Regions from separate parts of the Homo sapiens genome. Here all the other regions are linked to region 6. The links come from fine-mapping of genetic effects on plasma protein levels. A gene starts in region 6. Each other region holds a variant in brackets. All regions are shown on one strand. Distances are between the middles of the regions.

What was found. PIP is the chance, under the fine-mapping model, that this variant and not a neighbour inherited with it causes the effect. Protein levels are from antibody-based Olink assays in UK Biobank. Linkage for the fine-mapping came from a reference panel and not from the study's own genotypes, which makes the PIPs less certain.
Region 1: its variant is fine-mapped to the plasma level of the CD86 protein (UK Biobank, PIP above 0.99).
Region 2: its variant is fine-mapped to the plasma level of the CD86 protein (UK Biobank, PIP above 0.99).
Region 3: its variant is fine-mapped to the plasma level of the CD86 protein (UK Biobank, PIP above 0.99). The variant lies in the coding sequence of CD86. If it changes the protein, the assay may bind it differently, which can mimic a change of level.
Region 4: its variant is fine-mapped to the plasma level of the CD86 protein (UK Biobank, PIP above 0.99).
Region 5: its variant is fine-mapped to the plasma level of the CD86 protein (UK Biobank, PIP above 0.99).

Annotation. Positions count from the first base shown.
Region 1 is chr3:122,096,764-122,101,840 of GRCh38, reverse strand. The region is part of intron 2 of CD86 (CD86 molecule); the gene reads right to left. Among named protein-coding and RNA genes, the nearest start is that of CD86, 44 kb to the right of the region's middle. RefSeq lists an enhancer at 592-781. The variant C/A (reference allele first, on the strand shown) is at 2,760.
Region 2 is chr3:122,264,037-122,269,113 of GRCh38, reverse strand. All of the region lies in intron 4 of CASR (calcium sensing receptor), which reads right to left. Among named protein-coding and RNA genes, the nearest start is that of CSTA, 59 kb to the left of the region's middle. RefSeq lists a silencer at 3,926-4,027. The variant C/T (reference allele first, on the strand shown) is at 2,527.
Region 3 is chr3:122,106,553-122,111,615 of GRCh38, reverse strand. It overlaps CD86 (CD86 molecule), which reads right to left. Exons shown (of 7, transcript NM_175862.5): 5 at 2,208-2,351. Among named protein-coding and RNA genes, the nearest start is that of CD86, 54 kb to the right of the region's middle. The variant A/G (reference allele first, on the strand shown) is at 2,282.
Region 4 is chr3:119,907,437-119,912,499 of GRCh38, reverse strand. All of the region lies in intron 6 of GSK3B (glycogen synthase kinase 3 beta), which reads left to right. Among named protein-coding and RNA genes, the nearest start is that of NR1I2, 130 kb to the right of the region's middle. The variant T/C (reference allele first, on the strand shown) is at 2,469.
Region 5 is chr3:121,649,840-121,654,916 of GRCh38, reverse strand. All of the region lies in intron 3 of HCLS1 (hematopoietic cell-specific Lyn substrate 1), which reads left to right. It also overlaps the pseudogene RN7SL172P. Among named protein-coding and RNA genes, the nearest start is that of HCLS1, 8.5 kb to the left of the region's middle. The variant A/T (reference allele first, on the strand shown) is at 2,743.
Region 6 is chr3:122,053,404-122,058,480 of GRCh38, reverse strand. It overlaps CD86 (CD86 molecule), which reads right to left and starts at 3,119. Exons shown (of 7, transcript NM_175862.5): 1 at 2,978-3,119. The coding sequence starts at 2,991. It also overlaps a transcript of ILDR1 not described here.

The DNA of each region.
Region 1 (5,077 bases), 43 kb before region 6:
GTGTTTATGAATCACCTTACAAGGCAAACCTGAGGCTTCTGCATCTTCTTTGCTGAGCTCTTAATGTAATGCAAGAGTGCCCCCTACTGTAAAAGCTTCTAGCATTGTCTCTGAGGAAATACTGGTTTTAGTCTAAATTGTCATGTAATATAGGACAGATGACCTGATGGAGAAACCAAACACACAGTTAAAAATTCTGCCAATTAACAGTCAATGTTATGTTATTACTCAGCTGTCAGTTGTGCCTTCTGGACCTGGAAATGACTTCGTCTTTAGCTGCTTCTGTCTTCTTGATTTACATATATATATATATATATATATATATATTTTTTTTTTTTTTTTTTTCTGTAGAGCCTCACAGTATCTTCTTTCCTTCCCATCCATTCTGTCCACTCACAGACCAGTCTAACTCCGCTGACCCAGGCCCCTTCTCCCAAAGATTACAACGGCTTTCTCTTCCACTCATCGAGTGCTCCCTTCTTCACCTAGCAACTGAAAGTGTGATGTATGGACCAATGAGATTCACGTCACATGTGGGCTGGTCTGAAACACGGAATCTCTGGCCCCACCCAAGACTTACTGATTCAGAACCTCCATTTTAACAAGAGCTATAGTTTGAGCAGCTGTTGTAGAGAATCTCTGCCTCTGTCTCCAGAGTGGATCACAGAAAATGACATGAAAATTTTTTTTCCATCCATCCCTCCTCAGACTCCCTCTCCTCCCCATGGGGTGGAAATCACTTTGAAATCCATTCTGAGTGGAACTGAAAGTATTTTGCAATTTATACTCCATAGCACCTCACCAACCACTGGCTTCCATGATCTCACACAGAGCCAGGCATGGGGGATGCTGCTAATCCTTTCTCTGACTAAATGGGGAAAGTTTGGCTCAAGGTCTGTGATCACCAAATGACTTCAGGCCTTCCATTTTATGACCCCAGACCTCAAGCCACCTAGCAACTGGACTTACTGGGATTCCATAGGTGGGTAAGCATTGAGAATCTCTCCCTTCCCCAGCACTTGGGTAAGAGGAATGGTCGAAGTCTAGTTACAATGGGTTGCTATGATGTCAGGAACAAGTCGCTCAAGAATCCAGCTAGATGCCTTCGTAATCAGCTGAAGGAATTTGTTTCAAAGGATAATTAAGGACTTCCTGAGCAATACACTCTACTGTTGGAATGCCACTCAAAAACTGTAATTTGCTAGCCTTATGAAGTCTCTGACCCCACTGGGACTTCAGTGTTCCCTGGCTGCTATCCCCAAATGCATATCTTATATGTTTAAGAATTATCTCTTCTTTATGTTCCTATGCTTATCTGTACTAAAAAAAATTCCTTCTTTTACTAAACTTCCTCCAAAGTTTTACTTGGCCCTTTGAAAGCCTCATTCCATTACTTACTACAAGGAAACTCTCCCACATCTTTAACCCCTTCATTGACTGTTTCCCTGAGGTTATTATTTCAGTGAAATCTGGCTTCACCCAAAGGAAGCCACTTGCTCCAGCCCCAGCTACTGTTTGTTTTATCACACTTTGTGGGGACTTTGAGCAACACCTTCCCCTTTTGAGGTGTCTGACTTTCTCATTGCTTGTAGCTACTAAGTCACTACCACCTTGCTAAATGAGGATTTTGGCATTAGATGCAAGGTCTTGCTAACAATTTGGGTGACTTCTTCATGAATGAGTCTAACAACCTTGCCTCAAATTTCTTTGATCTTGTCAACTCCACAGGTCTACACCCGCAGACTATTTCAGCAGCTGCCCCCCACCTTCTTATGACATAACCCTGAAACTTTTCACCTGGAGCAGCTCAGTCCCTAGAATCTTAATCTCAATATACTAATCTCCGTCCACAACCTCCTATTCATCCAGGTTTTGCTCTTGCTTACTCCTTCTACAACTGTTGTTCAACTTAATCAAGACCTCAGCTTTATCCAGACCCTGTAGTGCAGTGTTTTCCACAAGAACTCTTAGTGATAATGGAAATGCTCTGTCTCTGTGCTGAACAATATGATAGCCACCAGCCCCTGTGGCTATTGAGCAATTGATACATAGCTAGTATGACTGAGAAGATGAATTTTTAATCTTATTTAATTTTAATTAATTGAAATTTAAGTAGTCACATATGGCTAGTGGTTATTATATTGGACAATGCAACAATAGTATGTCTTTGTAATTATTCCTTTCCACAACTTCAATAAACACACCCCTTTGTCTCTATAAAATTTACCCTGGGGACACTCTACTTTTGGTCTACATATCTGTTCTTACAACTGGGCAATTGAGCAGTTCTGGAGGAAATTATTCAGTTGTGCGGACTGGTGACATTCCAAATCTGCAGTGTCCTGTCTCACTTCACTCGGCCTCCAGGCTATTCACCTGGTTCACCTCCATTACTTCAAACACAAACCTTGTGCTACTGCTTTTAGTTTCTCTTTCCCTTGGAGTCAAACTCCCTGAAAGAGTAAGCAGCAATTGCTGCCTTTATTCCCAGCCTCCCACCCCCACCTCTCTACTGAAACTCCCTGACAAAGGTTGTTGGTGACTTCACACCATGGCCAAGGCTTGAGCTCTTTTCAGATCTCAACTCATTTGACCGCTGTGTCAAATGCAAGTGTTGGCATCTCTCCTCATTGAAATGCTCTATTCTTTCCCAATCTCTGATTTCCTTGTTAATTTTCTCAAATCACTCTTTAATTTTGGTAACCTTGAGTGCATGTTCTTGGTCTTCTTATTCTCCATACTTTCCTGGTTTTTCTCCT[C/A]TAGCCCCACGGATTCAACTGTCAAGTAAAAGCTAATAACTCCCAGGTGCTTATTGCCAGCCTATAACTTTCACTAGAGTTTCAGATACCTGTATTCAACTTCCTGCTGGATGTCTCTATCTAGATAGCAACAGGTACTGTCTTCCTCCCCTTCAGCCTTCCTCTACTCTATCTCAAGGAATGCTCCCCTGTCTGGGAATGACCAGACAACCCTCTTCTGTCTACAATCATCTAAATCATCTGTATAACCAAGATGAATCATTTGTGTACCCAAAATACCCAACAGAGGCTCTACACAAGTGTGTCTGAGGAGATCTAGAACTACTACAGCCAGAGCTGAACTCCAATATGTTAAGAAAAGGGTAGAGGAGACTAATGTAATTGTCTCCTAACTCATCTGCCTGCTCCGTCCTTGTCCCCGGGTCTAGTTTCTCAAGCCAAAATGATCCCTTAAAAATACAGCTCCAATCACATAATCCTCCTGTTCAGAAGCCTCTGATGCCTTCCACCAAACTGAAAAATATATCCAGATCCCTTCCCCTCACACTGAGAACTACATCCAAAGTCCTTCCCCTGGCCTTACAAGACCTCATGTAATTGGGTCCCCAGTACCTATCAGGCCTCTTTCCCCTGCTTACTCTCCCCAGCCACACTGCCTCCCTTGACATTCCTCCAAAAGATCACACACTCTGTCTCAAGTCCTCTTCTCATGTTGTTCCCTCTGTCCAGAAGGTTCTTCCTCCAGACAGTCTCATAGCTTCTCCTTCACTTCATGTAGGTCTTTCATTAAATGCTACCTCCCAGGGAGATTTCTCTAACCATTCTATTGAAGATAGCATCCTGGGCATTCTGTCCCTCATGCTGACTTATATTTATTGTGGTACTTATCATGACATGACATGACACGGTATGTTTGGTTATTGTCTGTCTCTCCTGAGATGTCTGGGTTCTGATTAAAAATCTATGTGTGATTTTTCAGACCTGACCACAGGCAATTAAAGAGGCTTAATCTGACAAGCCTTGCTGAGGAAGTTGCCCTTTCTACAGCAGACTTGGTGCACAGTCAGTGCATGGCAGTCTCTGAAGGGGGCTGCAATCAAGATCTCAGCCTCCCGCCAGTCATGCTTTTTCACATACTTGCAATCTTAGCCCAGGCACCCTCATTCTTAGGTCTCTTTATCTGAGGCTCTGGGGTGAGGTCTTCAGGCACCTCTGCTGAAGCCTCCTCATCATAGAGAAGACACTTTTCTCCACTCGGACTCAGTACCTAGCACTTTTCCACTCCCTGCCTTGAAGACACTGTTTTCCACTCTGACTCAGTACCTAGTATTTTTTCCACTCCTAGCCCTAAAGACACTATTCCCCACGCTAACTCAGTACTTTGTACTTTTCCACTCCTAGCCCTCTCACCTCATTTTCCTCATGAATTCTCCCCACCCTTGGATTCCTCCACCCCCAGGTCCATAAAACTGCTAGAGCCTTTCATTTGGGGCTTCTTCAATGGTAAGGCGACCCCCTAAGTCTGCACTGATTACCTGACCCTCGACTGGTATACTCACTCTATGTGGGGAAATGGAACAGGCAGAGTCTGCCCTTCCTCCCATTTTAGCCTCTTGATTATACCGTCGTAGTAAGAGATTAAAAGCTGAACTATTTTATTTTTGTTTTGCTGCTATAATTGGCTCCTCTGACACCTGACAACTCAGCTCTCTCTCTCCCAGCTCAGCTGAGCACCTGACATCTCCCATTAGAATAAGCTCCATGACAGCAGGGGCTTTGTCACTTTTCCTCACTGTGACATTTCCAGTACCTGCAATTGTCCCTTACAAATATGAAGCACTCAATAAGTAATTGTTGAAGAAAGGAAAGGAAAAATCTCAAGAATAACTAGGGAAATGCAATTTAAACCTCAGTGAGAAACCATTCTTTTTGCCCATTTGATTGGCACGTATTAAAAAAAATACTGGTAATACCCAGTGTCCGCGAGAGTGTTAGGAAAATGGGTCCTAACTGCTGAATTTACTGCTGGTAAAATTCTAAATTGGTACAACCTTTTTGGAGGACAGTTGGTAATATGTAAGAAAATTAATTATGGGCTTAAGCATTGACTTAGCAACTCAATTTCTTAAGAATTCATTCTACAAAAAGATACATGTGCACAAAATTAGAGGTACACAGGTATTCATTGTTTATAAGAACAATACACTGGAAATAAGTTAAATGGTTTAACAAATAATGATACATCCATACAAAGTAATGCCATGTAGCTGTGAAACAGAAAGCTATAGGGCAGTACACTATTATAACTAATAGCATGG
Region 2 (5,077 bases), 210 kb before region 6:
CTTTTAGGCATATTTATTAGTACAAATTAGGCTAATAAATTGTTCCTGATAAAGATTCTTAGGAGGCCTACATCAGTTAAAAATACAAGAATAATTTAAAATTTAATGGTTTCTGGATCTTTATGCCTCAATAACCCTGTTTATACTCTTAAAATCCTTACCAAAACATGCTTTCCTTCATGTAATTTACTTTGTTAACAATGCAGAGCTAAGTTCCAGCCCCAGTTTATGAAGTCAGCATTACTGTGGTTTCTTGTGTGAGAGTTTTCTGACCACTTCTCTGAGATCACTGACCTCCCTTATCTGTGCCTGTATCTAGGTACTGTGTTACTGTCCTCCACTGTCCTCTCAGGAGTTATTTTTGTCCCATTTTCTTTCTTTATTCATTTGTTTATTCAACAAGTATTTATTGAGGGACCACTACTGGCCAAGCAGGCACTGTTTTAGAAAGAAGAAATACAGTAATATTCAAGATGGACAGAGATGTCTAATAGACTCCAACCTGGTTGGCTGTGTGCACTCTCAATTATTTGCACACTATACTTTCTCTTTGTGTAAGGACCGAGGTGTCAGGACAATTGTTGAACACCCAGGGTTCAAGGCAGTGGACCAGTGTCTTCACTTGGAAACCACTGGCTGATCTGGCAGCCTCTCAGGAGCTAGAAGGCATGTGGTGCCCAGAGGGCAAAAGTCATTCTTTTAGCAACTCCTTTGGCCTCTTTGGGGAACAGATCACCTGGAGCAGATGTAGCTTTTTTACTAGCTAGATATATTACTTTAGGAAAATCATTCTGACTTCTCTGGGTCTTACCCTCCTCACCTACAAAAGAATAATACTCAAGACTAATATTTACTGCACATAGTATATAGGCACTATCCTAAGCACTCTGTGCATATTAAGTAATGGTATCCTCATAATAAACTTAACAAGTTTCATGATCTCTATTTCTCAGGTGAGAGAGAAAAGTGAGGCACAAGGACACTAAGTGACTGCCCAAGGTCATAAGGCAATTAGGTGGCAATTAAAATTTAAACCAACTCAGTCTGGCTTGAGATTCCAAACTGTTAACCATTACACTATACTACCTACTCACATGCAGGAGTGAAATTAGACATCTATTAAGTTGCCTATCTCTAGTTACAACAGGTTAACTGGTATAAAATGTAGGTTGAGAAAATGGACATATTTTAAAAATGAAATGGTAGAGATGTGTAATGCTTGTGGCAACATGAGGGGCCATAAGTGGGAAAATGGTCTAACCTGAATGACATCCTGATCTCCATGAGTAGCCAGGACTTCCCCACCTGGGGACTTTCCGTTATTTTTTTTATCAACTTTTTTGAGGTATAATTTATATACACTCATTTTAAGTGTATAGTTCTGAATTTGGGCAAATGTATATGCTTGGTAACTACCACTGCCACCTTCCCAAAAGGTTCTGTGGTGTCCCTGAAAGTCAACCTCTACCCACTTGCAGCCTTAGGCCACCACTGATCTGCTTTCTTTCTGTCAGTAGAGACAGAGTATCGCATAAATGAAATCATACACTATGTACTATTTTTTTTTAGTCAGTATTCTTTTGCTTAGCAGGACATTTTGTGACCTTTCCTCCAAGGAGTAGATCCTTCTCCGTATCCACAAATTTTATCTACCCTTCAAGACTCGTCTCAAATGATATTTTTTTTTCCTTACTTCAAATCCTAACCTGAATTGTATTGTACTATGTCCTCACAGCAGGTATATAAATAAAATCACATGAGTGTGGAATATTTTCTACTCAAAATTTGTACGTTATCCACTTATAATCAATAAATTATTATGCTTACCAAGTCATATCTCTAAGTCACCTCTTTAAACATCTTTAATATTTCTTTTGGCAGGCTGACTTGCAAGTTTTGCATTTGGGCGTTTTATTTTCTGCATAATATCTTGCCTTTAATTCACATAACAGGGAAGATGGAGATGAAAACCATTTCACTCCTAAGAGCAATGACAGGGAATCTTTAAATTGATAATGATTGATCCACAAAAAAAGCAACATAAGTTAGAAGATAATTTAGATATCTGCCCGAGAGAGAACACTCTTTTTATTATTTATTTATTTATTTTGAGACGGAGTCTCGCTCTGTTGCCCAGGCTGGAGTGCAGTGGTGCGATCTTGGCTCACTGCAATTTATGCTTTCTAGGTTCAAGCAATTCTCCTGCCTCAGCCTCCTGAGCAGCTGGGACTACAGGTGCCTGCCACCACACCCGGCTAATTTTTTGTATTTTTAGTAGAGACAGGGTTTCACCACGTTACCCAGGCTGGTCTCGAACTTCTGACCTCATGATCCACCCACTGTGGCCTCCCAAAGTGTTGAGACTATAGGTGTGAGCCACTGCCCCTGGCTTCTTTTGCTTTTAAAAAGGAACTGACAGTTCCTTTTAAAATGAAATATAAAATTTTACTTGAGATTATTATCCAATATTATATGCTTCCAAATTATTTATTTTATTTGGGGAGTAATATGAGGAAAAAGAATAAA[C/T]GAAGGGGAAGAGAAACAAAAAAAGCTAGTAGAAAGATCCAAACATAGGAGTACTGCTTGAACCTGGGAGGCGGAGTTTGCAGTGAGCCAAGATCGGGCCGCTGCATTCCAGCCTGGGTGACAGAGCAAGACTCTGCCTCAAAAAAACAAAACACAAACAAACAAAAAGATCTGAACATAGAACATAACATACAGACACAAAGAGACTTACAGGCTCACAAAGAAAACACCACCAAGAAAGACACATAGATCTAAAAGAGGGGCAAATACAGGACATGCATGCACTTAGAAGCTAACATACTCTTTTATGCCATAATATTCCCATCTTGTGGTCTTTTAGGGTATTTCCCCTAAAAGATTTTAAAGTCAAACGGTTGCTCATTATAAGCATAAATGGAAATCACCTCTTGGCACACATTCTTAGTAGCGTCAATTGAATTAAACTGAACATTAGAGACTAGAAACCCCCCCACTCTGGTCTAGGACTTCCAGCTCTTATACAGATAATGAGGGCCAGGTCACACAGATAATGAACAAGATAATGAAGTTCATTATCTTGCCCAGTTCCTGTGGTAAGAGCATGGGGAAGATCCAGGCCCAATTCCCTTCTCTAACGCCAGCCATGTTTTCTTATCTCCCTTCCATCTTCTCTGGCTGTCCTCACAATTTATCCCCCATTCCCCAACTTCCAGCAGTACCAGGAATTCCTAGAAAGATCAGCTCCATCTGACTTCCATCTTCACCATGGCTGCACGCCTGTTTTCTGACTAGTGAGTGTTGGTGTGAGGTGCAGGAGAGTAGGAAGCACACCTTGTGCATGATCATCCTGAGAGAAGAAAGAAGGTGATTTCATACTTACATGATGTTCCACTCAAACTTGATAGTGGGCACGTGACCAAAGCTTGTCCAAACAGAGCCTAGAATACCTTGGCCACAGTGATTGATTCAAGAATGGGTTGTTGGCTCAAACGGTTCCCTGCAAAGGCCTATAGGTAGTGTTGACAGGTCAAATCAACTAGACTGCTATTCACTCATTCATTCATTCAATGAATATTCCAGCGACAGGCATTCTGAACATAGTACTGAACAATACAGGCATGGTTCTGGATCTTATGAAGCTTAGAGTACAGCAAAGGAGTAGTGAAGAGAGAGCTGGGAAGGGATGTGAGGAGGGCTTGGGGGTCTCCAAGAAGAGGTCAGGAGGCAATTGTGAGTTGTATGCTCATAAATCACCTGCTAGTGCTACTTTTGAGGCATATGAGTTGACTGATAAATATTTTTTTGGGGAGAAAGAAAGGAAAAAAATTGTGATTGACCCTTATAACCAGAATTTTAACTAATAAGTGTCTATTTCAGTCAATTAAAGAGCTGTGGAAGCTTAAGCTGGGTATATAAACATCAAAAATGAGGAAGCGAGAATGATCAGAAAATGTGTTGTGGGAATACGATTTGAAAAGACTTCCAGGGGAAAGTGGATTTTGAAAACAATTTAAATGTTCCTGGTGGAAAATGACAGCAGAGATAAAAATTGATGGCCCTTCTGGTGTGGGCTATGGCCTATGCAAAGATGCTGTGCCAAAAACTAATGAGTGATTTGTGAGGAGGTGTCATGCAGGTTGGCTTATAGGGGAAGAACTGAGAGAAGGCAGACATGGAGTTCCAGCTGGAGACTTGGATTAGATTATAGGTGATAAGTTTCCATATAGATCTTAATATTGAGAATGAATGAATAATTGCTAGTTGATTTCCTGATGAAGATATAGGTCTTAATAATGAGAATGAATAATTGCTAGTTCATCTCCTGGCCAAGACCTCAAATTCTGGAACGCCCATCCAACAGCCTGGGTTCCTGAGGCTCAAAGGAGACTCACACCAAGCACTCAGGACATTTTGGCCAATTTCCCATGTCATTCCTCCCTAGAGTTCTGATCCCATTTTCCTATCTGTGCTGTCTCCTGGGGAGATTTTTCCAGACCATGTAAGAGTCAGGAGAACATATCTTTACCTGGGCCATGGTTGGGTGAAGTGTCTGTGTAGTGGACATTTTGAATGTTGGCTGCTTTGCTTCTATTTCTTCCTCCTTTTGGTAATGGCATCCTGACTTCCCACTGGAGATTCACTCCCCCCTTACTCTAAGTCTATGTAGTCTGGAGGACTGCTAGCATCAGGGATGGATCCATGACTTAGGAATGGTCAATAAATGTGGTTTCTGGAACTTTTACAGGATATCTTGGGAAGTAAGGAGATCCTAGCTTCAAGCTGCTACAGAAGCTGAAAATTGCTAACCCTGGGGAATGAAGAACAGAAAGATGAGATGAAAATACCTAGCTGTACCTGGAACACTTCTGAGATTTTTAGTGACATGACCCACTCACTACATTTCCTCTTTTTTTGTTTATGCCAATTTGGTTAGGGCTTTCTATTACACAACTAAAAGTCCCAGTTGTGACTGTAGCCTGTCATGGCTTTTTTTTTTTTCTCACAGGTCCAAGGTCTGGTCTTGACCATCTGTATTTTATTTCCTTATCTGGAAGAGGAGCCATTGAAGAGT
Region 3 (5,063 bases), 53 kb before region 6:
TCATGGCTTCCTCCTTCCATCTTCAAAGCTAGAAATGCTGGGTTGAGCTTCTCAAGTTTCAGATCTCTCCTTCTTCCAGTTCATTTCTCCATCCCAGCTAGGAAAGGTTCTCTGACTCATGTGATTACATTGGGCCCACCTGGATAATCCAGGTTAATCTCACCATCTCAAGCTTGGTGCCTTAATCACCTATGTGAAGTTCCTTTTGCCATGTAAGATAACATATTACAGGTTCTGGAGTATAGGAGGTGGACGTCTTGTGGGGGGCATTATTTTACCTATCACATAGCCAATGCCAGGAGTACCCACAAAGCAATGGCAGATATTGCTGAAGTTACAGAATCCAAATTTACAAATATATCATATCTATAATGGCATAGTTATACCTGTTGCACCTCCCTCCCTACAGTGATAGCAAGGCTTCTCTCTTTGATCAAACTCAGTGGCATGGATGACTGTCTGAATAAATAACTTTTTCTTACCAATATTCTTCATTACATTCTTAGGGGTCATGTATGTGCCACTCAGCCCAATCTGACCATCTCATCTGTACCTACAGAGCTTATTTAACCACCTTCTAACTTCTCTCATGTGAACACACATATCCTCTTTATCTCCCCTATCTAGTCTCCTGATTTTTTTCTGATTGCCTCATGGAGGAAGAAACATCCTTAATCTTTTTCTCCAACCCTTCTTTGTTTCATTTGTAAGCTGATCATTCTAATGTGAAGAAAAATCTAGCAAACAGCTTATTCCCAAGATGTAAGTCACTTCTTCATATTTGACTAATTTTAAATGGCAATGAGGTTGAAAGAAAGTGAAGCTCAAAACTCTCACCTTGAAAAGTCAAAGCCTGGACAAGCATGATATGTCTTTACATCTGTGCTAGGAATTTTATACTTTTATATCATAGAAATCTCGCAGCACACTCCATACATTGGCAGTTTGAATGGCTCTGCCACATGCTTTGTGTTAATTTATTTAAATTCGATCGTTGCTCCCCAATTTCTTATTTTTAAAGTACAGCAGGATGCATTGAATGACTGCTAATGTCATCCATCTATTTTCTAGTTAGATTTTAAAATCAGTATACTGAAAAACAAGATGCTGGCCAGAGGCAATACTCATCTTGTGCTTTCTACCATAAGTGAGTTAGAAGGTTACCTTAATTATTAGCACCAATCAAACTAATTACTACTGGAGGCAATTACTGAGATAAAGTCCAATCTTAGCTTAGAACCAGACCAAACTACAAAAAGGCATGGCATTATTATAAAGTTAGGGACCACTTTGTCCCCATGAAACATTTTTATAACAGAAGTCAGTGGGGAGGGTGTTTATAATAACAAAACTATTGGACTAACTCAAGTGTCCAAAAAATGAGGTTGGTTAAATAAATAAATTATGGTGTATCCACAAAAGGGAATATCTTGCAGCCATTAAAAATGATGCTGTAGAATGATATTTATGACATTGAAAATTGTCTTGCTACATTTAGTATAACAAAATTAGAACACAGTACATATATTATCCAAATTGTGAAAAATAACCCTTATGATAATCCTAATTATGGAAAACAACATAGATTGATACACAGAAAAATCTTAAAGATAGGCACCAAAAATATTTGTGTAATCATTTTTTCTTATTAGTGGAGTTATAGATTATTTTATTTTTGGTATATATGATAATGGATATGTATTACTTAGAAATTAGTTAAAGTTAATATTGTTTGTTATAAGTCAATGGGCAATAATTCATCTAACTTATTTCATAAGAAACCTAGATTTTTTTAGAGACGAGAAGCTGATTCTTGTGGTCATTTAGCAAATATCCCTGCTTAAACACCACCAGGTCCACAATCTTTAACATTTAGGAGTGGTTTCACCATTTTACTTTATGTATATGTCACAGTAACCTCATGAAGTGAGGTAGATAAAGCAAGTAATAATCAGTTTTCCCTGGAAACCAGAAGTACATTTGTAAACCAGAGGTTAGAAATGTCGCCTTTCTTTGAAGTCCAAGAGCAGCATTATCTGCTACTGCCAGTCTGTATAGGCTCAAAACTCCAAGGGAAAACCTTTTTTCCCAACAACTTCCTGACTTTTTGCCAGTCTAGGCTCAGCCAACAAGCTCCGGAAGGCAGCCAGCCGATTGGGAAGTAGGTGCAAAGTGACAGTCTGTGGGGAGGACAAGGACTCACTCACCACATTTATAAGAGTTGCGAGGCCGCTTCTTCTTCTTCCATTTCCATAGAATTAGACAGAAAACCATCACACAT[A/G]TAATAACTGTTGGAAGTACAGCTGTAATCCAAGGAATGTGGTCTGGGGGAGGCTGAGGGTCCTCAAGCTCTACAAATGACCACAAATTTTCAATCAGCCAGGAGAGTCATTTACAAAAGGTTTCTGCTAGCTGCTCTTCTCTTTATTTACCTGCCAGCCTCTCCCCAGGGCTCTAAGGCCAGAGAAGCCTGAAATCCACAATAGGAGGCCATAGAAAGTCCCAGGCTCAGGGCCTCAGCAGCGACCTAAGAATCGAGCCCATGCCTCTGGCCAAATGCCTGGACTGAGCTGCCATGCCTTCATGGAGGTGGGGATAACACCGACCATGATCAGGAAGAAGAGGGTCAGCCTGGCCCGTGATTCTGGAATCTGGGTGAGGTGTCTGTGCTGAGGCTCTGCACGTGCAGTCATTTGTGCCGTGCCTGCTATCCTGCCCCCCTCTGCAGTCAGTTCCCAGGCCCTGAAGTTCCTCTCGTGATGATTCTTCTGTCCACTATAATCTCCAGACACCTCTCACTTGGACAAATGGAACAGCTTCCACAGGCCCCTACCTCTAGTTTTCATTTGCTTGTTTGTTTAGTTTTTTCCTACTGAGGTCACAGCAGGTTTCCTCTGCATGGCTTTCAGCATATCTCATCTACTGAAAAACCTTTGATGTTTCTTCATGCCTTGAGGAACCTTCACGCCTTCAGGAACTACTTCCTTACATGAGAACTCCTAAGTTTCTGGGGAGTTGGAAAACAGGCTTTGTGGGGAAAACTTAGAACGGAGTCGCCCACTTTAAAGACATTTTTGGGAACAGTTCTGGTAGCTAATCCCAAATTTCAGGAAAATTAGGACCAGCTGATCTATTAGCTTAGCTATAATTTGTAGACACATGCCCTGTTTCTGGGATGTTAAGAAGTTGTTGGCATTGCAGGCCATATTTAATCCCTTTTGAGTCTGTCCCAGTCTATTCCACTTGAGCCAGTTTGGCACTCCCAGTAAAGGGGGTTAGGGGTTATACTTACTAACGTGGAGGCTGCTACCTTTTAACATGCAAAAAAGGCCCCTTGACTCAGGGTCTAACCTATCTCTGATCAAGCGATAGAATGGGAAACCCAGAGAGGCAAGCCCCATCTTCCTGAGGCAGCTAGAGCTGAAACATTTCTGAAGATGGGGGTACCTGTTGAAGTTTGGCAGAACAGTAGTTGAGAAGCAGCAGGAAGGTGAGCCATGATGAGGTTATAGTGGTGGCAAGCCCCTGTTAATTTGTAGACTATGGGAGCCGTAACAGAGGGCCCTGGGGCATGTCATATATGGCCATCTTGTGGCCACCAATCAAACTAATTACACATTGAAGGAGGTACTGAACTTCAGGCATAGCTTGGAGAGGCTTCTATCTGGCCAAGAGAGGATACAGGAGAAGCAACTGGGACAGGACGAGTTGGCTCCACCATTTACTGGATTCTCAGAGGCTGAAGTGTCTGAATAGGAAGAAGTCAGTAGCAGGAGATGAGATTGGCCCAGTTGTAAAGTTGGTTCATGGGGACTGGCCCCGTGGGCTGTTCACAGACCAAGTTATATCTGAACAACAAGACACTGGGAGAAAGGAGGTGACAAAGCCAGGGTATGGAGCAAGGAGTTGGATGGATGTCACTGGAGGGGGCAAGCCAAGAAATCACCGCTGGAGAAGGGGTCAAGGTAAGAAGAAGGCAGATGTGGGTGTCAAGGTCAGCACAGGCAGTGATGGGACAGGGTAGATGCAGACCACCTTTATTCCAGGAGGGAATCTTGCAGTTACAGCTTCTTAAAAGAGGAGTCAAATATAGACACATGCCCTCCTGGGTAAAGCCAGGACTTTAAAATGTCAGGCTCCTATTAGTGGCTACTGCTTAGTTTCAATCCTTTCCTCCACTGAACTTGTCCCTGAAGAATACTTGTGAACACACAAGCATTTCTGCCTCCAAGGCTTTCTTTGACATACCTCCTGCACTTACGTCAGATACAGCTGATCCACTGTGGTCCTCTCACCTGCTTAGCCCAGATACTGTCTCAAATTTTTTCAGCTACGGAAGTCACCACAGTTTTGGGAACCTGTCATCCAGAATGCCCTCCCCTCCTCACCACATTTATTAACCCCAATAATTTATTTTACATGTTACAAGGTACCCCTTCCTTTAGGAACCATTCCCTGACCCTCAGGGATCTTGCCTACCTCTGAATGCCCATAAATCTCATTACCAGTCACTTTTATTTTAAATTTAGTCAGATATTTCCATGGAATAAAATTTAGATTCCAATTCAACCTTTTAAAAATCCAGTTTTTCATGTGTGCACATTACAGGGTTCTGATTCTATTGGAAGGTCCTCAAGGGCAGAGGGGGTGTCATATCTTTTTGTTTTCACTCCTGTGACCAATAATGTCCCAAATGGTTCTATACTCACAATAAATATCATTTGTATGTCTGCATGTATGCATGGTGTGTGTGTGTGTGTGTGTGTGTGTGTGTGCAAGCGCATGTATGTGTTGTAATCAAAGAAAGAATTCTAGCCTGGAGGAATCCTGTATTTTTAAATCAAAACTTCAGAATCCTCCATCCAAAGGTAAACCAAGAGACTGAGTCAGTTTCAGGGCTAAAAGCATATTTCTTCAAGTGCAACATAGGCTCGTAGCCTCCTGGACCCTGCATCACTCAGGAGAAGCAGGAGACCTCCATCTGGGTCCTTCCTAACAGCGTCATAAAATGGCCCAGTTGGAGGTTTCCTAGCAAGTCGGGGACATTGGATGATCTGCCTTAA
Region 4 (5,063 bases), 2.1 Mb after region 6:
TCTCAAAGGTTTGTGTCAACCCTGAGTCAAGCAAGTCTGCCCACACTAGTTTTATAAGAGCATGTGCTCACTTCATGTCTTTGTGTCATCATGTCTTTGTGTCACATTTTGGTAATTATTGCAACATTTCAAACATTCTCATTGTATCTGCTATGGTGATCTATGATCAGTGGTCTTTGATGTTACTATTGTAATTGTTTTGGTTTGCCACAAACCACAACAATATAAGACAGCAAACTTAATCGATCGGTGTTGTGTATGTTATGAATATTCCACCAGCTGGCCATTCCCCATCTCTCTTCCTATCCTCAGGCCTCCCTATTCCCTGAGAGACAACAATATTGAAATTAGGCCAATTAATAACTCTGCAGTTGCCTCTAAGTGTTCAAGTGAAAGGTACATTTTTCACTTTTAATCAAAAGCTAGAAATGATTAAGCTGAGCAAGGAAGGCATATCGAAATTGTGCCACACAGTTAGCCAAGTTGTGACCAGAAAGGAAAAGTTCTTAAAGGAAATTAAAGTGCTACTCCAATGAACAGATGAATGATAAGAAAGTGAAACAGCCTTATTGCTGTTACAGGGAAAGTTTTAGTGGTTTGGATAGATCAAACCAACCACAACATTCACTTGAGCCAAAGCCTAACCCAGCAAGGCCTGAACTCCCTTCAATTCTGTGAAGACAGAGAGGTGAGGAAGCTACACAAGAAAAATCTGAAGGTAGCAGAGGTTATTTCATGAGGATTAAGGGTAAAAAGCTGCACCATGCCATAAAAGTGCAAGGCAAGCAGCAAGTGCTGATGTAGAAGCTGCAGCAAGTTATCCAGAAGATCTAACTAAGATCATCGATGAAGGTGGCTACATTAAACATCAGAGTTTTAATGGAGACCAAATAGCCTTCTACTGAATTGGAAGAAGATACCGTTTAGGACTTTCATCTCTAGATTTTCTAGAGATGGAAGACTTCTTCTAGAGAGGAGAAGTGTCATTGCCTGGCTTCAAAGCTTCTAAGGACAGGTTGACTCTCTTGTGAGGGCCTAATGTAGCTGGTGACTTTTAAGTGCAAGCCACTGCTCATTTACCATTCCAGAAATCCTAGGGCCCTTAAGAATGATGCTGAATGTATTCTGCCTGTGCTGCATAAATGGAGCAACAATGAGTGGATGATAGCACATCTGTTTATAGCATGGTTCACTGAATATTTGAAGCCCACTGCTGAGACCTACTACTCCAGAGAAGAGTATTTCTTTCAAAATATTACTGCTTATGGACAGTGCAACTGGTCACCCAAAGGTTGAGAAATACATTTGTAAGGCTATAGCTGCCCTAGATAGTGATTAGTCTGATGGATCTGGGCAAAGTCAATTTTAAATCTTCTGGAAAGGATTCACCATTCTAGGTGTCACTAAGAACATTTGTGACTCAATCACATGAACAACATTTTGGAAGAAGTTGATTCCAAGCCTCATGGGTGACCTTGAGGCATTCTAGACTTCAGTGAAGGAAGTCTCTGCAGATGTTGTGGAACTAGCAAGAGAACTAGAATTAGAAGTGGAGCCTGAAGATGTGACTGAACTGCTGCAATCTCATGATGAAACATAAACAAGTTGCTTCTTTTATGGATGAGCAAAGAAAGTGGTTTCTTGAGGTGGAATCTACTAGTGGTTAAGACGCTGTGAATATTGTTGAAATGACAACAAAGGATTTAGAATATTACATAATTGTAGTTGATAAAGCAGCAGCAGGGGTTGAGAGGACTGACTCCCATTTTGAAAGTGGTTCTAATGTGGGTAAAATGCTATCAAAGAGCATCTCCTACTAGAGAAAAATCTTTCATGAAGGGAAGAGTCAGTTGATGTGGCAAACTTCATTGTCACTTTAAGAAATTACTCCAGCCACATCGTATAGCCTTCAGCAACTGCCACCCTGATCAGTCAGCAGCCATCGACATCAAGGCAAGACCCTCTGCCAGCAAAAAGATTACAACTCACTGAAGGCTTAGATGATCATTAGCATTTTTTTTTAGTAATAAAGTGTGTTTAAGTTAATGTATTACATTTATGTTTTTATACAATTCTATTATACAAGTAATAGACTACAGTATAGAGTGAACATACCTTTTATATGCACTGGGATACCAGAAAATTGGTGAGACTTGCTTTATTGTGTCTTATTGTTATGGTCTGGAACCAGTTCTGCAACATCTCTGACGTATGCCTGTATAGAATTTTTCAAATTCTACTTTTTAGAATTTAAGGTATACCTACTATTCTATTTTTCTTCCTTGGACTGTTAGAATCATAAAGCTAATAGCTTTTACCTTAAGAATTTAAATTAATTCTAAGTAACTTTTTTTTACTTTCTTATTTAAAATCCTCCTGAAATACTTCTGAGCATGATTATACTAGTTGGATAATTTATTAATTAATGTTATTTCATTAAGTTAATAATGAAAGTGATAGTATGGCCA[T/C]ATTGCTAACATTTCCTTCATGCCATCTCCATTATTTAATATAAAATCAGCTTAAATCACTAGTAGTTTTGCTAGATGCACTGATTCTGCAGAAGTATGCACCCAAGATGTTTAGTCATAGAAGGAACTGAATAGAGACCATTAGCTTTAATCATCATTGACCTTCTCAAGTCTTCACCCCAGATGTTTAGTGATAGGAGGAACTGAATAGAGACCATTAGCTTTAATCATCATTGACCTTCTCAAGTCTTCACCCCAGATGTTTAGTGATAGGAGGAACTGAATAGAGACCATTAGCTTTAATCATCATTGACCTTCTCAAGTCTTCACCCAAGATGTTTAGTGATAGAAGGAACTGAATAGAGACCATTAGCTTTAATCATCATTGACCTTCTCAAGTCGTCACCCAAGATGTTTAGTGATAGAAGGAACTGAATAGAGACCATTAGCTTTAATCATTATTGACCTTCTCTTTTACTACATCTTAGCCCACTAGCCAGGAGTGAACAGAGAGAGCATGATCAGCTGGACATGAATAGGAAGCTAACAAACAAGGAGCAACTTTAAGCTGGATGTGCAAGTGGAAACCAAAATTATTTTACTCTTACATATTGTTTCTGAAGAGAATTCCTTTAGTCCAGAAACAAACAAAAGCATGCAAATAATAAACCAAAAACATCCCCACAGTAACAGAAAACCAAAACAAACAAAAAACAGACCTGGCCTGGTGCAGTGGCTCACACCTGTAATCCCAGCACTTTGGGAGGCTGAGGTGGGCAGATCACTTGAACTCAGGAGTTCGAGACCAGCCTGGGCAACATGGTGAAAACCTGTCACTACCAAAAATTAGCCGGGCGTGGTGACATGCCCCTGTAGTCCCCGCTACTTGGGAGGATGAGGTGGGAGGATGGCTTGAGGCCAGGAGGCAGAGGTTGCAGTGAGCTGAGACTCCACCACTGCACTCCAGCTCGGTGACAGAATGAGACCCCCCCTCTCAAAACAACAACAGCAACAACAAAAAATAGAACAGACCTTGTGACAGTTTTTTTGTCTTTTTGATATAAATAGAAATTCTCTGATACAAGCAAACACCCTAATCAGAAACACATTATCATTTTTTATTTTGCCAAATGGCAAAATGCCAAAGCACATTTTGATTTCTGCCAAGAGGCCAGCAGTTTTACCCACCATTTCCTTTGTACCCTCAGTACAAATGTTAACCCAGTGAAGGTGTATTCTTATGAAAAGAGTTTTGCCCTCTGGGACATCTAGAAATGTCTAGAGGACCCAGGTGCAAAGAGTACAAAGTGTCCTCTGTAGACCACACTTTGACATCTGCTTTACCAGAGGGTAGAGAGCATAATAATGTGTATATGTATGTGTATGTAATTCTCAGAGTCTTAGTATGGCTGTGGTACATGGCATATATGAATGGACAGATGAAAAATAGTACAAAGAATATTTTGCTTGTGGTCGACCTGGGTTTGAGTGTCAGGTCACTTGAAGTAAAGTGGAGATTACTGACAGTTCTTTTCTGAGTGGCTGTGAGGCTTAAATAAAATGTTAGTGAAAATACTGTAGAAATGAAAGGTGGTATTCTTTTGTGGCATTTTTAGACTTGACTCTCCCCAAGAGCAAATTTCAGCCCCTTGTCTTTGGGTATGTCATTGGATTTTCCAGCTGCTTTACATTTTATTCAAATATATGATACTGATTATCTGTATATAAGATACTGGTGTGAGCTGTGCCAGAAACACCTAAAATAAAGGCAGTTTGATTGTTCTCAAAAAGTTAACACATCATCTCACACATTAAGGAACAGTTATATAAACAGGAGTCTTTTGAACCCTAGCAAGCCTAGGTTTGGCTTCCCATTATAAACTTAGGATACTTGCCTCTTAAGACTGTAATGTTTTTAAACAGACCCTCCCAAAAAGTATACTAATATTGTTACATTTTTAAATGTTTTTAACAGTAATGTTTGAAATGAAAGAGTAACTGTTTCTGACAAGATTATTGTCATATTTAGATACAGCCAGAGGTAAAGCTGATGTCTCTGATTATATTATCTTACTGACAAATGGCAGAATGAGAACAAAAGGCTTCCTTAGAACAAGGAATTGAACTTACAGACAGACCCTTGAAGAAGCTGTTATTCTGTGACAGTGAGACAGTTATTCAAGAGAGTGGTGTTTTGATTGGGAATTGAGAATGATTCCAGGCCTAGCTCTACTATTCAGTACCTTTACCTTGGGCAAGTCGTTTAACTTTATCATGTCTTAATTTCCTTATCTATGAAATAAGTGTGTTAAACTAGATGGTCTTGAAAGATCACTTTAACATGAACCCGAGTTAAATATGAAACAAAATGCTATTCTGGCTTTAACCCCAACTAACTAAAATTCAGTGTGCCAAAGCACTATTTCTATTTTTCCGGTACCTTCTATTTAGTTGAAGTTTTATTCTATCTGGAGAATTTCATCCATTTGTCCTTTGAAGTAAGAGCAGAAGAGATTTTAGTGTCCTCCAGAAAGTGATTGATAAGTACCTTGTTTTTACTAACTTGACTGATGTAACATGAATTGAGGGCTGCTA
Region 5 (5,077 bases), 400 kb after region 6:
TCCACTATTTGGGGATTCCCTCTCGTTAGTGTGGGCTAAGTCAGTCTTTAACATCTGATGGGAATCACCATGGTCCTTGGAAAGGAGAGGGAAATTGGAGAGGAGAACAGTAGCTGTAGATGCTAACACTGACAGATCCCAAAATGAAAAAACAAAAAACAAACAAACAAAACAAAACAGTAGCTGTAGAGCTGAGACGACTAAAAGCAGGAAAAGGAAGTGGTTGCAGTTCTTACTAATCTTACTACCTTCCCCACACCGTGATGTCTCTTTTTAGGTCTGTCTTGAATAAATTTAGTTTGGATAGTAATTTGGTAATTCAGTGAATAATTCAAATGGTCCTATGCATCCCTTATCCATTCTGTAAAGGAACTGCCTGGTTTTCAAGAACTATCACCCTTCTCTCCACCTTCTTTTCTCCACTCTTGCCCATTCATTCTCAAGACTCAAGGGTGTCTTTTCCCTTGACCTGTTTGTTTATTTTCAAATCTGTCACAGACTGATACTTTTGTAAAATAAAATACAATTAAGTTTCTGGAAAAATAAATGGTTAAAAATAACATAGACAATACAAACACAGTTTTTATTTTTAAATTCAACAGATATAAAATCACGATGTTGTCAGGCATGCTAGTCTGTGCCTATAGACCCAACTACTCAGGAGGCTGAGGCAGGAGGATCACTTGAGTCCAGTAGTTCTGGGCTATAGTGCTCTATGCTGATTGGGTCTCCACGCTGAATTCTGAATCAATATAGTGACCTCCCACCTCCCAGGAGCAGGGGACCATAGGTTGCCTAAGAAGGGGTGAACTTGCCCAGGTCAGAAATGGAGCAGGTCAAAACTCCAGTGCTGATCAGTAGTGGGATTGTGTCTGTGAGTAGCCACTGTACTCCAGCCTGGGCAACAGTGAGACCCCATTTCTAAAAAAGAAAAAGAAAAAGAATAAAATCACTATGTCAAATTGCTATAAAAGTTTCTAAACACATATTCTCAATTTTTATTCTTATTTCCCTGTGAAACAGAAACAGTTCAGCTTGTGGACCACACACTGAGTGGCACTGCTCTGGAATAATCTTTCAGCACTTCCTGGAACCAGTCTGGCCTTTAGATTAAATCTTTACTGAGCTATAACCATAGGATGTCTGCCTCAGTGGCCCTGTCCTCTTCTCGTGCCCTGACATTTTATAGCAAGTGGAAATAAAGAATGGTGTAATGCCAAGAGTATAGAAATAGAATTCTGGAGCTCTAGGGACTGATTCCAGCTCTGCTGTAAAAAGGCTTATGATGCTGAGGAGAGTAATAATATTTTACCATCCTATCTTGATTTCCAGCGCTGACTGGAGATTATAGTACCATCCCTGTTTACCTCACAGGGGTACTGGGAAGAGCCATGGCTATAACTTAAGAATAATGACTAACATTTATTAAGCTATTATATGTCTTGCAAAACACAGAGTACTTTTTAAAAACAATCCTATATCATAGATGACGTTGGCATCCTGATTTCACAGAAAAGTGAATGGATATATTAATGTTTAGCAATTTGTCCGAGGATACAGAGATACAGGTTGAGCATCCCTAATCCAAAAATTCAAAATCTAAAATGTTCCAAAATCTGAAATTTTTGAAAGCCCACATGATACCACAAGTAGAAAATTCCACACCTGACTACATGTGATGGGTCTCAGTCAAAATACAGGTGCACAACAGTTTTTTCAGCGTCCCCAAGGGAAAAATAAAGTTACCTTCATTTATTTAGTTCTTCTTTAATACCTTCCTTAATATAGTGTATATGACACATAAATGAATTTCCTGTTTACACATGGGTCTCGTCCCCAAGATATCTCATTATGTATATGCAAATATTCCAAAACCTGAAAAAATCCTGAATCCAAAACACTTCTGGTCCCAAGCGTTTGGGATGAGGGATAGTCAACCTGTAGTAATTTGAATTCGGCTCAGTCTGACTCCATGGGCTGAAATCTTAACCAATATATTGTTTTTGTCTAATAAACATAATATCGTCATGTCCGTAATTCTTTTGTTGAAATGAAATGCAAATTCCCATGAACTAAGCTATTGCCAATTCCCTAAGGCTGCTTGCTATTCTGTTTACAGTGACAAAGTACTTGATAAGTTGGCCTTAATAATACTACAATCACTTCATAAACAAACCTCTTTATGAGTGCCCAAAGTCTCTTTCATTTAAGGTTTTCTTCACTTTATTATTTTTCAAAAATTAACTTTGTTTTTTTTGAGACGGAGTTTCGCTCTGTCATCCAGGCTGGAGTGCAGTGGTACGATCTCGGCTCACTGAAACCTCCGCCTCTGCCTCCCAGCTTCAAGTGATTCTCCTACCTCAGCTTCCCGAGTAGCTGGGATTACAGGCATGTGCCACCTTGCCCAGCTAATTTGTGTATTTTTAGTAGAGACGGGGTTTAACCATGTTGGCCAGACTGGTCTTGAACTCCTGACCTCAAGTGATCCGCCTGCCTCGGCCTCCTACAGTGCTGGGATTACAGGTGTAAGCCACCATTGCCCAGGCAAAAATTAAATTTATTGATACCTAATCATTATAAGCAAATAGTTCAATGAGTTTTGACTATATATATATAATATAACCACCAATGCAATCAAGATATAGAATATATCTATTACCATGAAAATTTCCCTGCACCTCTTTGCAGTCAATACACCCCATACTGATCTTTTTGTCACTATAGATTAGTTTTGTCTGGCAT[A/T]GAATTTCATGCAAACAGAATAATATAGAATGTATTGTTTTGTGTTGTCTTCTTTCAGCATAATGTTTTCCAGATTTATCCATGGTGTTGTGTATATAAGTCTTTTGTTCTTTTATATTGTCATGTAGTGTCCCATTGTATGGATATGTCACAGTTTTATTATTCATTATCCTGTCAATAGCCATTTGGATTATTGACAATTTGGATCTATTACAAATGAAACTGTCATGGGCATTTGGGTACAAATCTTTTTGTTGACATATCCTTATTTCTCTTGGAAAATTGCCAGGAGTAGAATTGCTGAGTCATATAATAAGTGTATGTTAAACATTTTGAGAGACTCTCAAACTCTTTTCCAAAGGGAATTTACCCTCTTTCATTCCTACCAGTAATGTGTGGGTTTCAGATGCTCCACATTTTTGTCAACATTTGTTATTGTTAGTATTTTTAAATTTAGCTGGGTGCAGTGGCTCATGCCTGTAATCCCAGCACTTTAGGAGGCCAAGGCAGGAGGATGACTTGAGCCCAGGAGTTCAAGACCATCTGGACAATGTGGAGAGATTCAGAGTCTACAAAAAAATTAAAAATTGGCTGGCTGTGGTCTGAGCTATTCAGGAGGCTGAGGCAGGAGAAGCACTTGAGCCCAGGGGGTTGAGGCTGCAGTGAGCCATGTTTGCCCCACTGCACTCCAGCCTGGGTGACAGACTGAGATCCTCTCTAAAAGACAAACAAAACAAAACAACAACAACAACAACAAAACCAACTTAACCACTCTTTTAAGTTAATTTGAATTTCTCTGATGACCAGTTTTATTGAGTATATTTTCATTTGCCATTCATATATCTTCATATATCTTCTTTATGAAGTATCTGTTCACATCTTTTTCTCACTTTTAAAGTGAGTTGTTTGTCTTTTTATTAAGTTGCTGAAAGTTCTTTATATATTCTGGATGTAAGTCTTTTGTGAAATATGTGTTTTACAAGTGTATTCTCCCAGAACATAACTTGCTTTTTCACTTTATTGATTGATTGATTGATTATTTATTGATTGATTGCTCTGTTGCCCAGGCTGGAGTGCAGTGACATGATCTCAGCTCACTGCAACCTCTGCCTCCTGGGTTCAAGCGATTCTGCTGCTTCAGCCTCCTGAGTAGCTGGGACTCAGGCGCCCACCACCAAGCCCAGCTAATTTTTGTATTTTTGGTAGAGACGGGGTTTCACCATAGTGGCTAGGCTGGTCTTGAGCTCCTGACCTTGTGATCCACCCGCCTTGACCTCCCAAAGTGCTGAGATTACAGGCGTGAGCCACCACACCTGGCCACTTTTTCATTTTATTAATGGCATCTTTTTAAGAGCAAAAGATCTTAATCCTGATGATGTCTAATTTATTGAAAAAAAATTTATGGGGCTAATGCTTTATGTGTCTAAGAAATATTTACCTACCCCAAAGTTGTGAAGACTTTCTTTGATGTTTTGTCCTAAAGGACTGACAGTTTTAGCTTTTACATTTAAGTCTATGACCCATTTCAAGTAGACTTTTCTGTGCAGTGTGAGGTCAAGATTGAGGTTCATTTTTCTCCATGTGATTATTTAGTTGTTCAACAATATTAAAAGAGTATTCTGTTCCCATTGACTTACCTGGCATCTTTGACCACATACATGTGGGTCTATTTCTGGACTCTATTCTGTTCTGTTGATCTATTTTCTACCCTGACAGCATACCATACTGCACTGATTATTGTAGCTTTATAAGTCAAGAAATTATGTAGTCCTCAACTTTGCTCTCCTTAAAAAAAAAAAAAGAAACAAAAGATTTTACTATTCCAGGACTTTACATTTTCACATAAATTTTATAATTCACTAGTCAATTCCTACAAGAATGCCTGTTCAGATTTTGATTGGGATTGCATTGAATCTATAGATCATTTTAGGGAGAACTGACATCTTAATGATATTGAGTTTTCCAATCCATGAACATGGGATATCTCTCCATTTATTTAGATCTTCTTTAATATTTTCAGAAATATTTTTTAGTGTTTAGGTCTTGCACATACTTTGTTAAGTTTATCCTAAAATGTTTCATGTTATTTCATGTATTTATATTTAACTTCCAGTTTCCAAATGTTTATGGCCAGTATGTAAAAATACAATTGATTTTGATATAATGACCTTGTATCCTGTGACCTAGCCAAATGCACAATGCTTTAGTAGCTTTTTTTGTGTGAATTCTTTAGGATTTTCTACATACATGATCAGGTCATCTGTGAATAAAAACCTTATATTCTGAGTCACTCACATTTGTGCTTTTAGTTTTGTAATAAAAAACAAACACAGAT
Region 6 (5,077 bases):
CCAGTAGCTCTGAGTCATCTGCTCTCTCTTGCACTAGCTCTTTGCTCCAGGCTTCATTCCTGCTCCTAAGTTGACTCTCAGTTTCCTTAACTTCACCTGCCTTTCTACCATTTGGCTTCCCACTGTCATCAGTCACTCCCTGGAGGCTGGCCTTGTCCTGGGTACTGCTTGTTTTAGATCAGCTCCTCCATCCCAAAAGCACAACTTGGGGTTGTCCTGCCAGGCACAGAGGATACTGAACATTTCTGCTGGAAAAAACCTTCCTCCATTCTGTTCTTAGTAATGCCATTAAGTGGTTGTATAATCTTGGACAAATCACTTTTCCTCTGTTTCTTAATCCAAACAGTAATAGTAATAAAAACTACTAACAATTCCTGAGTACTTAGCAGGATATGGATTATCTCATTAAAATCTCACAACTACTTTACGACATATTACCATACTCCCATTTTACAGACAAGAAACTGGGAATTACAATGGTTAAGCAACTTGTCCAAAATCACATAGCTAGGAAGTTGGGGAACTGGTATTCAAACCCCAGCAGCCTGGCTTCAATGTGCGGCCACTTAGCCACTGCACTGTCCTCCCTCTCAATATGCAACTCACCCTAGAGAGCCATGCAATCACTTCTGTAAAATAAGGGAAGAGTGCTGCAGCCTGTTCTAAATATAAAATTCTATCAGAACATGCCTTTCAAGATCTAATGAGTTATGGGTAGAGTGGGTGTATTTTGAAGAGGATTCAAGAGATGAAGAAAGATAAATGCAAAGGGCTAAAGCCCTAACTATGGAATCTCACAACTTATAAATTATCACACATCACTAGATGGTTACTTCTCTGAAAAAAACCAGCTATTGTTTTTTTTAAATCTTAAATATTTAACTTTATTTTTCTGCCTACAGATGGGATTCAAATTGAAAAGCACACAGTAGAAAATACAAACTACCTATATTTCTGATTAATATTGTTTGTATACATGTATCATGTATAAAAGTGATAGCACTGTTCGTTCTGCATTTTTCCCCTTTAACTAAACACATTATGAATTGTTCTACAGTGGAATTTTAAATAATTACATGGTATTCCATTATGGATGTTCCATAATCATCCAATCACTTGTTTTTAAACACGTAAATTGTTTCTAAGATTTTCCTTATTAGAAACAATAGCAAGAAAAATATCCATCACTAAAACTTTACAAACATGTATTATTATATCTTAGAATAAATTCCTAAAAGGTGAATTGCTTGGTTAAAGGGCATATACATTTTAAAGGCTTTTGATATGTATCACTAGATTATTGTCCAGAAAGATGATATCACCACTAGTGCGCAACTAGGGTACAAATAATCCTCCCTTCTTAGCAAGATAGAGGGTTCTTGATTGCTTGCTTTTTAAAACTTAATATTTATCTCTTTGATAGAGAAAAAATGATACTTCACTGTTGTTTTAATTTGTATTTATTTCATCTCTTATGAGAACAGACATTGTTTAATGGCTATTACTGGTTCATGACCAATCTTCAGGCACTGTGAAACAAAAGGAATCTTAACAAGTTCAATATAGACAGCAGCCTATGGTTTTTTAGACCTCTGCAGACAGTGCTAGCATAATTAAGTAGTATCCCCTCTATGGTACCACAAAAATTATAAATTTTGAAATTCTTTTTTTCTTCATACAAGTATAACGCTTCAAAATTCCACTGGAGCAAAAGGAATCTTTACTGGAAAATTAAATTTTAATCTTCTGAAATAAAAGCAACAAAGCTTTTTCTCAAACCAGTAAGCACTGGGTAGATGAAAGTTACTTCGATTTTCAAAGAACAGTAATTATAAATACATAGTGACGGCCGGGTGCGCGGTGGCTCACGCCTGTAATCCCAGCACTTTGGGAGGCCGAGGTGGCCAGATCACAAGGTCAAGAGATCGAGACCATCCTGGCCAACATGGTGGACCCCGTCTCTACCAAAAATACAAAAATTAGCCGGGCGTGGTGGTGGGCGCCTGTAGTCCCAGCTACTCAGGAGACTGAGGAAGGAGAATCGTTTGAATCCGAGAGGCGGAGGTTGCAGTGAGCTGAGATTGCGCCACTGCACTCCAGCTTGGCGACAGAGCGAGACTCTGTTTCAAAAATAAATAATTAAAAATAAATAAATACATAGTGACTGGCGCCAGCTGCCACCACCCAAGAGAAGGGCGGGTGTGACTCCTTCCAGGAAGTCTCCACAGCATGGAGAAACCTTCTGGCGCACCACGAAGCGGGCAGGAAAGATTTTAGCTCTACCCCTTATGAATAGTGTGAACTTGGGCAAGTTTTTTAAGCCACAGTTACCCCATCTGTCAAAAAGAATGATGATGTCTTTCCAAAAGTCATTGTGAAGAATAAAATTCAATGAAATAGCACTAGTAAAGTACCCAGCACATCATGCATGTTCAATACATGGTAACTAATTTAATCACTCTACCTCCTTCCACTACCCAACCCTGCCCAGAATCTCCCATGGCCTGATTATGACATATTAACTGAGTTTTGCATTTTCTCCTTATACCTCTTTTTTCTCTTTCTTTTTCTTGATCTCTCTCCCTCTACCTTCTCTATCTCATTCCTCCACCCTCAGACCAAACTGACCCTGGTAGACAAAAAACATATTCCCTGTTATTTGTCATTCTTATGCAGATATTTTAAAAATTCCTGATTCTTCACTAAAATCAATGACTGTAACATTCAGTATTTGAATAACAGATTTACAAAACCAAAATTAGGCACCTAAAAATATATATAACTACCACCAATGAACTGCTTTGGGCATTGCAAATAATTCTTGCCTTTATGTGCCAAAGATCTTTTGTAGAAAAAGAAAGCTTCTCCACTTAGGAACTAAGTGAAGGACACACATCAAAGCACCATCTTCAACCTCAGCCTTTCACTGCAGTCACAACTCATAACTTCTCTGCAAAGAATAAGAATTATTACTCACCACTGGGGATCCATTTTGGCTGCTTCTGCTGTGACCTAATATCTGGAAATGACCCCACTCATCCGTGTGTCTGTGCTAGTCCCTGTTACAGCAGCAGAGAAGCAAAGCTTTCACCCTGTGCAAGCCTTCCTCGGCAATGACTGTATACCTACCCAGCTAACTTTCTTTAAGAGAAGCTGTTCCTCTTTTCTCTACAGATTTTGACCACACTTGAGGAAGAAATTTAACCCTTTCCTTGCAGTTTAAACTCATTGACGTAGGTCTATATGTATTAAAGAATATATAATTCAGTAGCTTGAGTTCCAGACATGACGTTAAGATGAGCCTGAATAAAAAATCTCCCCTCTTGAAATTCCCTCAAAAAACCTAGAAAATAAAATAATTAGAAAGAGAAAACAAACCTCCGCAGCAACAAAATAGAATAAAGAGGCATTCTACAGATTTTGATAAGATAATAAAAAGTGATTTATTGTGGATGTGGATTGGGAGTGAGTAGCCACCTAACCCTGCCAATTTCCACAACCAAAGTGTGGAGAGTTTCACTGAGCTGGGGTGGGGGGATGGGAGATGGGGAGATGTTCTGTAAGGACTGCATAACCAAGGAGGGCAGACAGAAGCTACTGCTTTTATTATTTCATTCCTACTATAGCCAAGGATTACATTGATGAAAGCGAATATTCTGAAACAGAAGTCTGAAAAAAAGGCAGCATTATAAAATTAATAGATGTCCCTAAGAGACAAACATAGAATTAATCAAGCAGAAACTATACTAGAAGATATTTCCTCGTATGAATTAAAATGGGCATCATCTAGAAACTCAAACTGTTTAGTGTATCAAAGCAAAAGTTATGAAAATCGATTCTCATCCAGACAAATCATTTTGAACATTTTAAATTCCAAAGGCAAAGCTAAAAACAAAATGAAAACAGAATGACTACAGAGAAACAAAAAACAACTTGGCATCTTACTCAACCCTAAATGGCAAAAAACAACAGAACAATATCTGCAGAATTTTGAATTAGCATTATCTACCTAGATAAGATGCCAGTTAAGTGTCAAGTCAATAGAAATATGTCACCAAGCAGGCAAGAAAACAACAACTGCAACAGAAATACCACCACCAAGACAGCCTTCCTAAATAAATTATTTAAGGATATATTCCAGAATAATAAATGAATTAAAATAGCCTTAAAATGGAGAAGCCATGGCTGAAAACACCAGTGCTGAGCTTTAAAGCAAGTTAAACATGGAGAAATAAGGCTAAATAATTATAAATTAGTTTAGACCAAAATGCTAAATAAGAAAAACTTATTAGAAGTAGATTACATATATTATTTCAAGGAAGTTTAAAAATAGCAGATGACATCACTGCTAACTAGAGCAAGGAAGCAAAATCAACACAATTATTAATCTTCAAATAAGAAGATAGAACAATGATTATTTTATCAACTTTGATAATTTCATCTGGATTTGAGAATTTTAAAAAATGAAGACAGCAATAATATAAGTTATCTATCTTCAAAATTATTGCAGAGCAGGAGTGCAAATAAAATAGTATTTATAACTACATAACACATCAGAAATAAGATGAGATAAAAAAATCCATGTAAACCTCATTTGTTATAAATATTAAATATTAAAGGTATGGGATGTCATTTTTCAGTTTCTTGGTAGCAGTGTACACACTCAAATTTCCATTTCTTGGTATCAATGCATACACTCAAATTTTTATTTAAGATAGCATAAGCATTTTCTCCTGTTATCATAAACTTTTTAGTAGTCATTAAATAGTACATTAATAGTACATCAAGTATACACTGTGAAAGCTGGCTGTAATGGCACATACCTGTAATCCTGGCTACTCAGGAGGCTGAGGTGGGAAGATTGCTTGAACCCAGGAGTTTGAGAACATCTTGGGCAACATAATGAGACCTTGTCTCATACACACAAAAAAGGTATATATTGTAGTAAAATTATCTTCCTAATATCAGACAGTTTTAGCTTTTAGTATTTTTATATTACAATTTTCTAATTAATATATTTAGTATATACATTTAGGAGTTTTTAGTATTTATTAGTTATCCATTGCTGTATAACAAA